Linked DNA regions of Homo sapiens: regions 1 and 3 are each linked to region 2. Evidence: fine-mapped expression QTL. A gene starts in region 2. Each other region holds a variant in brackets. All regions are shown on one strand. Distances are from middle to middle.

Region 1 (4,239 bases), 47 kb after region 2:
CTGGCTAACACAGCGAAACCCCGTCTCTACTAAAAATGCAAAAACAAAATTAACCGGGAGGCTGAGGGGGTGAGAATGGCGTGAACCCAGGAGGCGGAGCTCGCAGGGAGCCAAGATTGTGCCACTGCACTACTCCAGCCTGGGTGACAGAGAAAGACTCTGTCTCAAAAAAGAAAGAAAGAAAGAAAGAAAGGTGTGGCCTATGGAGACAGATGGCCTTGCTGTTCTGGCAAGGTAAGGACTGAAAAGATGAAGACATTAGAGGCATCAGGAAAGGCTTTGATCAATAGTGAGGATGAAAAAGGTGATTTTGAGAGGAAGTAAAGAGAAAACTGTAGTCTACCCTTGAGATAAATCTGGATGAGAAGACAAGAGAGGTTGGGTGACAGTTAGAGGAATATAGGAGGTCAAGGGAGGAGGAGGTGGCGGATGAATTGCTTTGAGAATGCAAAATAAGAGATTTCAGTATGTTTCTAGACTGAAAGGAAAAGGCAGTGGAAAGGTTGAAAACGGGAGACCTAGGGAATGACAAATGGAGGGAACTCTCAGGGGAGGAACATCTTGTGCACTTAGACTGGAGAGGTGGAGAGGATACTCTCACATGATTCATAGACAATTTGGCCCACCCGATTTAATACTCTGCCTGCATCTCCTATTACAGATTCTCTCTTCATTTTGTCAGCAAACAGCTCACTGTCCTCTGGATCTGCTGCGTCCTGCAGGAGCATTGCGCTTAAACTATGGGAAGCGGCACCTCCACCCAACATCATTTTGCTTTCCAGAATGCAGAGAGAGGTACGTGTTTCCCACTTTCCAAACCAGCTGTGGGTACCACAAAGCCCATATTGCATGGAGAGGGTTGGGGGTTCTGAGGGTAGAAGCAGAAAAACCCTTAAATTTCTCCTCAGGCCAGCTCTTAGAGGTCAGCTTCTCCTCCTTGTGACATGCCCACCAAAATGTCCAGTTGAAGTATATTTGACAGAATTAACATTCGCTCAGGAAGTTAGTGTTGTCCATTGGGGTTGATCCCAAACTACCCAGGTACAAATGAATGAAATAAGGTTGGGCAAAGAGGGGATGAAACACATTCCAGGCAGAGGGTAGAGCACGTCCAAAGGTCATGAGGTGGGAAGAAGGAAGCATGAGCTCCCTCTAGTGGCCAATCTAACAATTTTTTTTTTAAAACAATAGGCCAGGAGTTGTGGGTCACACCTGTAATCCCAGCACTTTAGAAGGCTGAGATGAGAGAATCTCACCTGGGCCCAGGAGTTTGAAACCAGCCTGGACGACAGATCAAGGATCCTATCTCTACAAAAAAAAAATTTTTTTTTTTTGAGGCGGAGTCTTGCTCTGTCGCCCAGGCTGGAGTGCAGTGGCACGATCTCTACTCACTGCAAACTCCTCTTCCTGGGTTCAAGCGATTCTCCTGCCTCAGCCTCCCGAGTAGCTGGGATTTCAGGCGCCCGCGACCACGCCTGGCTAATTTTTGTGTTTTTTGTAGACACTGGGTTTCACCATGTTGACCAGGCTTGTCTTGAACTCTCACTTCAGGTGATCCGCCTGCCTCGGCTTCCCAAAGTGCTGGGATTACAGGCGTGAGCCACCGTGCCCAACCTAAAAAATTTTTTTTTGTTTTTGAGACCGAGTTTCCCTCTGTGGCCCAGGCTGGATTGCAATGGCACAATCTCGGCTCACTGCAACCTCCGCCTCCTGGGTTCAAGCGATTCTCCTGCCTCAGCCTCCCAAGTAGCTGGGATTACAGGCGGGTGCCACCATGCCCGGCTAATTTTTTGAATTTTTAGTAGAGACGGGGCTTCACCATGTTGACCAGGCTGGTCTCGAACTCCTGACCTCAGGTGATCTGCCCGCCTCGGCCTCCCAAAGTGCTGGGATTACAGAAGTGAGCCACCATGCCCAGCAAAAAAAAAAAAAAAAAAA[T/AAAT]TAATTAGCTGGGTGTGGTGGCGAGCACCTCTGTAGTCCTAGACACTCAGGAGCCTGAGGTGGGAGGATTGCTTGAGCACAGGAGTTCAAGCCTACAGTGAGCTATGATCATGCCACTGCCCTCCAGCCTGGGTGACCGAGTGAAATCATTTCTAATATGGTAGGGATATCAACTGTGATATAAATTGCAAATATTTTTTCCCAGTTTGTCACTTGTTTGGACCAATTTTGGAATTAGCTTCAGCTCAGGGTTTCCTTATCTTGTGAATAACACGAATTCAACCCACACACGCCACAGGCTGAGACTTTCTATCTCACTGAGTTCTAGGTCAGCTCAGCTCCTGCTACCACAGGGGCCGGTAGGCAGAGATTTATTAGATCACGCAAGGTACAGAAACTTCCCCAGCTCCTGCCTTTTCACAGACAGTCCAGTTACCACTCCCTGCCATGCACAGAACCCAGGAACTCACTCTCATCCCCATACAGGTGTTAAACCCCAGCTCCTGAGACATGTGTCTGGTTGAGATTCCCCTGGGGCCTGCCTGACTTCAGTGCCTCTAACTGCCTTTGGCTATGGGTTCCGTCTTCATTTCTGGCACCCGGAGATCTCCCTTCAATGCTTTTGATTTCAACTATTGGTTAAAAAGAAATTTAGCTTATTTTATGCAGCTTTTCTTAATGTGTTGGAGTGTGAGGGAGTCCTACATCTGCTTAAGCATGCCATTTCTTATTGGAAGTCGATATTAGGCTCTCTATTTTCCTTAAAGGGATGTCATAATTCATTAAGTTTTTATTGCACCTTTTGGCAAGCTTATACTTCCATTACAGAAAGGTACTTCTTCCTAGAGGCATCATTTTTTTCCTTTAAATCAGTGTTGTATATAGAGACATAAATATTCTTGACAAAGATAATAAAAATAAGAGGGTAACCATCAAAAAAATTCTCTGTTCTATCTTTCTTAAATAATTTACCTATTCTCCCATACCCTACTGTGCATTGCCTTGGTTCACAATTTTCTCACAGTGTTGTTATATGTAGAGTTTTTACAGCCCAGGTGTATTTGTAACTTGTACCCTAATAATTTAGTTTACACATGGCCCAAGTAAGAGGGGCCTATACATTTTTGCATTGTGCTATTAAAAATACATGATGGGATAAAGGATATTAAAAGATCCTGCACTTCCCAGAGCCCATCTCAATTGAAAGCAAGCCAGCTCCCCACCACACCCTACCAGATAGTCAACCGGGAGGAAGAAAAAAAGAGGGAGAATGAAAGGTGTTGCCCACTTCTGCTGCCTGAGTAGCCAAAGCAAGACTGAGGATGTAATACGTATGTCTCATCATTGGCAGCACTGGCCATAGAATGCTCAGGGCAAGGTGTTAGCAGACAACATTGATGTCCATGATCTTCTTCAGTGGTCCTTAAACTTTAGCACAAGTATGAATTATGTATGGAGCTTGTTAAACCTTCAGATTCCTTCCTGGATTCCAGCGGTAGAGATTCTGATGTTACAGGTCCAGGGTGAGGTGTAGCAACCTGCATGTTTACCAGGAATCTCTAAAGAATCTGTAGCACCAGCCCTGGACCTTTCATTCACTATTCTCTTTTGTGTGTGAGTGTGTGTGTGTGTGTGTGTGTCAGAGTCTCTAGCCCAGGCTAAAGTGCAGTGGTACGATCTCGGCTCACTGCAACCTCTGCCTCCCAGGTTCAAATGATTCTCCTACCTCAGGCTCCCAAGTAGCTGGGATTACAGATGCCTGCCACCATGCCCAGCTAATTTTTGTATTTTTAGTAGAGATGAGGTTTCACCATATTGGCCAGGCTGGTCTTGAACTCCTCACCTCAGGTGATCCACCAGCCTCAGCCTCCCAAAGTGTTAGGATTATAGGTGTGAGCCACCACGCCCAGCCTCATTCACTATTCTGAACATGGTTTTACAGAAGTCAGTCAGTGGGGTTCAACCTCATCGCTTACTATTTAGTGAGTGCCTTTGAGAAATACTAGTAGTATGAATTTTTTTCATAGGAAATCAAATTTATCTTTGTTTAAGTTCCTCCCAGCTTCTCTTTTCCCATGTCACCATCATCTTTCCTCTTAGGGAAATCAGCAAGAATTCTATTATCTGTCTAATGCAAACGAAACATATTAAATCAATCTGTCTACTCTTTATGAGGTTGACCTGAGTCAGCCTGCAGGATTTCTAATCCAGCCTGCAGGATTTCTAATCCAGCTTTATCCACAAATAGTCCATTCATCACCAGCAGTGTATCTAAGCCTTGGAGCTTAAAAAGAATCTAGT
Region 2 (4,239 bases):
CAAAGCAATACATTTTTAGGCATGTGTTATGGTAGCACTACAGTTACGTTCCCAAACAAATCTATATTAATGATCTGTTTGTCACATACCAAATTACCTCAAAACTTAGTGGCATAAAGTGATAAACATTATTTCACAGTTTCTTTTTTTTGCGGGGGGGGACAGTCTCACTGTCACCCAGGCTGGAGTACAGTGGTGCGATCTGGGCTCACTGCAACCTCCATCTCCTGGGTTCAAGCAATTCTCCTGCCTCAGCCTCCCGAGTAGCTAGGATTACAGGCACCCGCCACCACGCCCAGCTAATTTTTATATTTTTAGTAGAGACGGAGTTTCACCATGTTGGTCAGGCTGGTCTCAAACTCCTGACCTCCAGTGATCTGCCCGCCTCGGCCTCCCAAAGTGCTGGGATTACAGATGTGAGACACCATGCCCGGCCTGCTTCACAGTTTCTATGGGTTAGGAATTTGGGGGTGGCTTAGCTGAGGCAGGAAGGTCCACTTCCACCATGGCTCACTCAGATGACTTGACAAGAAGCCTCAGTTCCTCTCTGGCTCTTGGTAGAAGCTCAGTTCCTCAACAAAGGGACTTTCTTTTTTCTTTTTTTTCAATTTTATTTACTTCTTTTTTGGAGACAGGGTCTCACTTTGTCATTTAGGCTGGAGTACAGTGGCGTGATCATAGTTCACTGCAGCCTCAAATTCCTGGGCTCAAGTAATCCTCCTACCTCAGCCTACCAAGTAGCTGGGACTAAAGATACATGCCCCCATGCCCGGCTAATTTATTTTTATTTGTTTGTAGAGATGGGGTCTCACTGTTGCCCAGGCTGGTCTCCAATTCCTGGGCTCAAGCAGTCCTCCTGCCTGACTCTCCAAGTGCTGAGATTTGTGTCCAGCCACAAAGGGACATTTTCATAGGGCTTCCTCAGGACATGACAATGGGCTTCCTATAGTGAGCAATTCAAGAGAGCAAGGAGAAACCCACAGTGTCTTTTGTGACCTAGTCTTGGAAGTCAACCACCAGCAATTCTGATTCTATTCATTAAACCAAGTGACCTCAGATGATCAGCCAGCCAACGTGCTGGGATGACAGGCGTGAACCACCATGTCTGGCAAGAAATTTTGTAATTCCTTTAAGTGTTATCCTTAAAAACAAGTGATTGATTATAAAAGTTGTATTTCTTCATCCTAAAATTGGTAAAAAATAAAAAAAAAATGTGTTTAGTTTCTACTATGCATTTAGTTTTTTTTTTTTTTTTTTTTTTTTTTTTTTTTTTTTTTTTTTTTTTTGAGACAAAGTTTTGCTCTTGTCACTCAGGCTAGAGTGCATTGGCACAATCTCGGCTCACTGCAACCTCTGCCTCCCAGGTTCAAGAGGTTCTCCTGTTCAGCCTCCCAAGTAGCTGGGATTACACCACCACGCCCGGCTAATTTTTGTATTTTTAGTAGAGACAGGGTTTCACCATGTTGGCCAGGCTGGTCTCAAACTTCTGACCTCAGGTGATCCACCCGCCTCAGCCCCCCAAACTGCTGGGATTACAAGCCTAAGCCACCATGCCCGGCCCTTTCATTTAGTTTCTACTATTCATGTACACATGTACCCTGTTTTACCCACAGACAACTGTGCTAACCGTTAAGAATGTCCCAGCCTTACTAAGATTTTCCTAAGTTTGTCTCCCAGACATTGGGAACTCAAAGGTGAAGAAACTTAGGTGTGAAGGTGGATTGTGGATTCAGACCTCCTTACTTGGAGGCCAGTGCAGAGACACACCAGCAGAGTAACCTCGGGTACATGGCTTCACCTCTCCAAGCCTCACACTCCTCATCAGTAAAGCGAGGATTAGTGGAACCTACCTGTTGGCTTGTTTTGATGATTAAATGAGATAATGTCCGCGAAAAATATTTAGCAGATAAATGTTCACTAAATTTTGAGCTTTAAAAAAATGTTTTACCAGCCAGGCGCGGTGGCTCACGCCTGTAATCCCAGCACTTTGGGAGGCTGAGGCCGGTGGATCACCTTAGGTCAGGAATTCGAGACTAGTCTGGCCAACATGGTGAAACCCTGTCCCTACCAAAAATACAAAAATTAGCCAGGTATGGTGGTGGACGCCTGTAATCCCAGCTACTTGAGAGGCTGAGGCAGGAGAATCGCTTGAACCCAGGAGGCGGAGTTGGCAGTGAGCGGATATCTCGCCGCCGCACTCCAGCCTGGGCAATAGAGTGAGACTACATCTCAAACAAACAAACAAACAAGCAAACAAAGTTTAACTGAAAAGTCTTTCCTGACACCTTTTCGCTACTGAAAATCTTACAGCCCCTCCCGGCCGCAGCCTACACTCCTTCGGCCCAAGCAGGTGCGCTGGAACCGGCAGTTGGTGAGAAGCCGGCTGCCGGCAGCCCCAACCCTTAGCGGCCCCGCGGTCAGGGACCTCCAGGCCCGATGGAGAGTCGGGGCGGGCTAGTGGATGCGCGGCGGGGACGGGAGGTGTCGCCGCTCCGGCTTGCCGGTGACAGGGGCGGGCGGGTCGTGCGCGGGCCCCACCTCCAGCGATCGCAGCCCAGCCCCAGCTCCTCCTCCTCCACGGCTTACCCGGGCTCCGACAGCGGCTGCAGGTCTCCAAGTTGCGGCCGCTGGAGCCCGAGCCATGCGGACCGCGGACCGGGAGGCGCGCCCGGGGCTTCCGTCCCTGCTGCTGCTGCTGCTGGCCGGGGCCGGGCTGTCAGCCGCCTCGCCCCCAGCAGCGCCGCGCTTCAACGTGAGCCTGGACTCGGTCCCCGAGCTGCGCTGGCTGCCCGTGCTGCGGCACTACGACTTGGACTTGGTGCGCGCCGCGATGGCGCAAGTCATCGGGTGAGCTGGGGCCCTGGACGGGGTCTGCGGGGACACCGGCCCTGCGGGTCGGAGTCAAACGCGCGCTGCTCAGAGTGCTTTAAACGGGGACGCTTTACTCCCCGCCACCCTTGGAGAACTGGTTTTGGCTGCCGCCCTGAGCAGCGTCCGGGTTGGGGAGAATCCAGCGCGGCAGGTTCGGCTTTCAAGTTCGGTGTCACCCGTGGCACGCCAGTCCTTGAGCCATTCCGGGTCAGCGTGGCGCGCGAGTTGTCGCCCGGGCTGCATAGCTACCAAGGAGGGGCAACCCGCGCCTTCCTTGCGGGCCTCGCGGGCCTTCCAAGCTTGCCCCTTTGGGACCAGCCTCACTCGCCCTCCCCATTCGGAGTTTTCTTACCCGCCGCCTTCCCCCCGCCCCCTTCCCCCCACTCCCGGGAGGCTGCAGATTGAGTGACGCCGCGCCTGGGCGGTCCACTGACTGGGGAGCAGTGGCCCTGAGACCTCACGCCCTAAGGATGTAGCCCCGCTCGCAGTGCACACGCAGTCGCACGCCGCCGACCTCTGAGCGGGTCAGACGCCCTTGTGCTTTTTGTTTCTAGGGACAGAGTCCCCAAGTGGGTGCACGTGTTAATCGGAAAAGTGGTCCTGGAGCTGGAGCGCTTCCTGCCCCAGCCCTTCACCGGCGAGATCCGCGGCATGTGTGACTTCATGAACCTCAGCCTGGCGGACTGCCTTCTGGTCAACCTGGCCTACGAGTCCTCCGTGTGAGTGCCCCAAGCCCGCGCGGAGTAACGCGGGGCTTGCGGGGGCCCCCGACACAGACTAGCGGGAGGAGACATATTTTCCGTGTGATAAAAACAGGGCGGTGCCTGCTTGCCTAGAAACCTCCAGCGCTTCCTCTTTGCCTCTCTGGGTAAATCTGAGCTGCACATCGTAGGCTTCGAGAGGGAAAGCAGATTCTCCGATTCAACACTAAACTTTCCCTCTACGTGTAGCCCCGGGTTTTCTCTTCCCCAATCCAGGTAGCGTACTTTTAAAATTCTGCTCAAAGGCCGGGCGCGTTGGCTCACACCTGTAATCCCAGCACTTTGGGAGGCCAAGGTGGGCAGATCACGAGGTTAGGAGTTCGAGATCAGCCTGGCCAACATAGTGAAACCCCGTCTCTACGAAAAACACAAAAAATTAGCCAGGCGTGGTGGTGGGCGCCTGTAATCCCAGCTACTTAGGAGGTTGAGGCAGGAGAATCACTTGAACCCGGGAGGCGGAGGTTGCAGCGAGCCGCGATCGCGCCACTGCACACCAGCCCTGGCGACAGTGCGAGACTCTGTCTCAAAAAAAAAAAAAAAAAAATTCTGCTCAAAACGTACTTTTCCAGGAAGTTTTTGAAACTAAGCCTCCTCTCATCTGGACCCT
Region 3 (4,239 bases), 29 kb after region 2:
TTTCTTCCCTTACAGATGATTTTTTAAAAAATGAAATTCTTGAAGAGCTGCACCTTAAAAAATAAGACAAAGTGAAAGTATTGTATTATGTTACAAACAATGCAGGCTCCTTCCTCATTTAACTTTACAACCTTGCGAAGTGGGTCCAGGAGATTTGGAGTTTGTGGTAAAGCCAGTAATGGGCATTGTCCTGCATTCCCTTCCCTTCATGGTTTGCCTCGATCCTCTCTAAGCTTCTATCCTGGCCTGAATAACTCAAAGATAATTGGTCTCAGAGATCAAGCCATATCCTCAGGCCTTATTTCCATCTTCTCATGATTCTGCCATCATACCTTTGCTTCTCCGCTAATGAAATGAGCTGGCAAGACCTCTGTTCATTGTGAAGTGCTTCTGAAAGAGCCTAAGAAAAAAGGCTCATCTGAAAGAAATGGAGAACTCTATTTCGAACCAAGCCTGTTTGAATGTGTGTTAGTCTGATCTTTGATCATGTGTTTCCATGTAATGGGAGTCTCGTTTTTTATAATGTTTCTAACGTTTTATTGAAAAACCTATGGCCCTCCTTCTTTCTCAATAGCTACTTTCTTACTGCTTTTTGAAAATAATATGCAACCAAATTATTTCTTAATGTCACATAATTAAGTAATAAAATGTCAAAAGAAATGTTGGCAAGGAGAATAAAAAAATTTCCAAGAAACTTAGCGTTATGCTCTCCCTGCTTTCTTTACCTCCGAAGTCTTATGGTTCTGAACTGCTGTCCTGAGAAAGCAACTCTCTTAGTTGTGATGTTATTTAAGTGTCAGCATTCAAGGGAATGAACAGCTGCTTGGTAGAGTTTGATTTTTCACATGTGCATGAAAGAAATGTCCTTGAGGATGAAGTCAGAAAAGGTTAAAAGTGTAAACGAAAATGTGCCTGAAGCAGCACTCAGTCCATGAGAGAGTTATTTTGCCAAGGCTAAGGATGTGCCCGGGAAAAAGAAACACCAGTCACAGGAGGACCTGTCCTGTGCTTTTCCCAAAGAGGGTTTGAGGAACTTCGGTATTTAAAGGGGAAAGAGCAAGCAGGAGCGGGGGATAAAAAGAGGGTAGACAGTGAGGCAAATGGTTACATTCTTGTGAGCTCTTATTATTGGTGCTCAGTGAATCTACATTTAGCACATGAAAACAAGGGAATGGAGGGAAAGTCAATGATGCATTTATCTCGTGCTCAGTAAATCTACATTTTACATAAGATAAAGCAACCGTGTGAAATTACAGCTATGTTTGGGAACAAAAGGAAGGCAGTTTTGGAGTGTCTCGGTTCCCAGGCTTAACTTTTCCTTTGGCATAGTGAGTAGAATGTCTAGAAGGAAGTGTTATCCAGGTACAGAACATCGCTCCCCTGACATACTGCAGACGTCTCTAGTGGCCCAGAATATTCGTGTTTCTTCTTGGACAGTGTCGTATAAATACCGTTTAATTTTCATCATCCAATGCCCTTTTAAAAATCAAATATGAGAAGTAGTTTACTCATGCCAGCTGTATCACACATCACACAGCCATTGAAACTAGAAATTTCTACTCATTAGTCTTTTTTTTTTTGAGACAGGGTCTTGTTCCACCACCCAAACTGGAGTGCAGTGGTGCAATCTCGGCCCACTGCAAACTCTGCCTCCAGGGTTCAAGCGATTCTTGTGTCTCAGCCTCCTGAGTAGCTGAGATTACCGGCATGTGCCACTATGCCCAGCTTATTCTGTATTTTTAGTAGAAATGGGCTTTTGCCATGTTGGCCAGGCTAAATTTCTTTTTTTTTTTTTTTTTCCAGACAGAGTCTCCCTCTGTCACCCAGGCTGGAGTGCGATGGCACGATCTCGGCTCACTGCAACCTCCGCCTCCTGGGTTCAAGCGATTCTACTGCCTCAGCCTCCCGAGTAGCTGGGATTACAGGCGTGTGCCACCATGCCCGGCTAATTTTTGGTGTTTTTAGTAGAGACAGGGTTTCACCACGTTGGTCAGGCTGGTCTCGAACTCCTGACCTCATGATCTGCCCTCCTTGGCCTCCCAAAGTGCTGGGATTACAGGCGTGAGCCACCGCGCCCAGCCTGGCCAGGCTAAATTTCTACTTATTAGTCTTATTCCATTTTTGTTTTCTTGAAAATATGCCATGATCTTCGGAAATTTGGGGAATACCCTAATTTTAACCAGGCAAAGCGAAGGCATTGAGGGCTGTTCCTCAGGAAAATGATTTAAGTAATCCAACACTCTAGTTGCTTTTCAGATATTTGTCCTTTTTGTTGAAACCGCCTTTGCAAAGATGATGACAGTGAGAGAAGTCTAGCATGGCTGACTCCATCTTCCTTCTAGCCTCACAGGCTGGCTGTCCTTGCTCGTTCCTGGGCACAGACCAAGCTAATCGTGGGAGGAATTTAGTTTAGAGTTTAACTTTAAAGAAAGGATGATAATAACCCCACCCTCAGACTAACCTCTGCCCTGCTAGGGAGTAAAGCCACCTTTGTAAAACTAATGGAAGGCTATGAGATTAGGATTATGGGAAGAACCCGAATTCTGCTAAATGTAGGCGTAGTTTCTATAATCCCTTACTGCTCAGGAGTCATGTGGCTAGAAGTCAAAGATTTGTGACTTCCCCAATTGTTCCTGTAGAGAACATCACT[A/G]CTATAGCACCTAAGATTGGTCTTTTGAGATGTTTTTCAGACTTTTGCATTCTGGCAACCACTGGACCCCACCAGGACCTGTGACCATGAGTCAACTAGTCCTGTGGCCCTCACCCAAAGGGCATACTCAGTGCATAAAGACTGTTTTCCATACCCCTGTAATTTCATCCCCAATCAGCAACCCCCTTCCTTAGCCCCCAGCTCACCAAATTATCCATTAAAACCCTAGCCTCTGAGTTCTTGGAGAGACTGATTTGAGTAATAACATCCATGCTCCTGCTAGGACTGTTAATTGAACTCTTTCTCTACTGCAATAGTATGATCTCAGTGAATTGGTTTTGTCTGTGCAGTGAGCAAGAAGAACCCATCAGGTGATTGTCAGGCCTCTGAGCCCAAGCTAAGCCATCATATGCCCTGTGACCTGCACGTATACATCCAGATGGCCTGAAGCAACTGAAGATCCACAAAAGAAGAGAAAATAGCCAGTTCCTGCCTTAACTGATGACATTTCACCATTGTGATTTGTTCCTGCCCCACCCTAACTGATCAATTGACTTTGTGACAAGACACCCTCCCCACCCTTGCAATAATGTACTTTGTGATATTCCCCCGCCCTTGTGAATGTACTTTGTACGATACACCCTCCCCACCCTTGAGAAGGTACTTTGTAATATCCTCTCCGCCCTTGAGAATGTACTTTGTAAGATCCACTTCCTGCCTGCAAAAAATTGCTCCGAACTCCACCGTCTATCCCAAACCTATAAGAACTAATGATAATCCTACCACCCTTTGCTGACTCCTTTTTTGGACTCAGCCCACGTGCACCCAGGTGATTAAAAAGCTTTATTGCTCACATGAAGCCTATTTGGTGGTCTCTTCACACAGATGTGTGTGACAGTGATAACAGTGTCACGTGGTTTAACTACAATGTGTCCAGATATTGAATTTTGTTTAAGCCTGCTTGGGATTTGTTGTGCTCCCCAAATTTCAAGTTTGTGTCTTTTGTTCAATTTTGGAAAATAGTCAGCTATCTCAGAATTGCTCACCTACATTCTCTTGTGTCTTTTCTCCTGAACTTTAAGTATGCTGAAGGAGCTCAGAACACACTACCCCAAATATGCCACTTTGGTATAAGGACTATTTTGAGCTAAAGGCACTTACAAAACCAGCAGGGAAAAGAAATTCACTCTGACCCTCCCCATTTTCTTCCTGAAAACAAGAGATAAAATCTCCATTTGGAAGATGTCCTTCCAATATCAGGAGGAAAGTAACACTCTTATCAACAATCTAAATGTCCATCTAGGCATGAATGGATAAAGAAAATGTGGTATGTACACACAGTGGAATATTATTCATCCTTTAAAAAGAAGACAGACAGGCACAGTTGCTCACATCTGTAATCCCAGTTACTCGGGAGGCTGAGGAGTGCTTAAGCCCAGGAGTTTGAGACTAGCCTGGCCAACATAGCAAGACCTTGTCTCTAAAAAAAATGTTGTTTAAGGCTGGGCGTGGTGGCTCACGCCTATAATCCCAGCACTTTGGGAGGCCGAGGCAGGTGGATCACAAGGTCAGAAGTTCGAGACCAACCT

The links. PIP is the estimated chance that this variant, and not a neighbour inherited with it, causes the effect.
Region 1: its variant is the best candidate, but not a certain one, in a credible set for the expression of NAAA in monocytes after LPS (Fairfax 2014, PIP 0.63).
Region 3: its variant is the best candidate, but not a certain one, in a credible set for the expression of NAAA in monocytes after interferon gamma (Fairfax 2014, PIP 0.60).

What each region holds. Positions count from the first base shown.
Region 1 is chr4:75,892,827-75,897,065 of GRCh38, reverse strand. It overlaps PPEF2 (protein phosphatase with EF-hand domain 2), which reads left to right. Exons shown (of 17, transcript NM_006239.3): 2 at 683-795. The coding sequence starts at 741. Among named protein-coding and RNA genes, the nearest start is that of PPEF2, 7.5 kb to the left of the region's middle. The variant T/AAAT (reference allele first, on the strand shown) is at 1,939.
Region 2 is chr4:75,939,352-75,943,590 of GRCh38, reverse strand. NAAA (N-acylethanolamine acid amidase) reads left to right here and starts at 2,578. Exons shown (of 11, transcript NM_014435.4): 1 at 2,578-2,847; 2 at 3,426-3,590. The coding sequence starts at 2,642. RefSeq lists silencers at 2,356-2,825, 3,226-3,295.
Region 3 is chr4:75,910,115-75,914,353 of GRCh38, reverse strand. It overlaps NAAA (N-acylethanolamine acid amidase), which reads left to right. Exons shown (of 11, transcript NM_014435.4): 11 at 16-694. Among named protein-coding and RNA genes, the nearest start is that of PPEF2, 9.8 kb to the right of the region's middle. RefSeq lists an enhancer at 3,838-4,239. The variant A/G (reference allele first, on the strand shown) is at 2,651.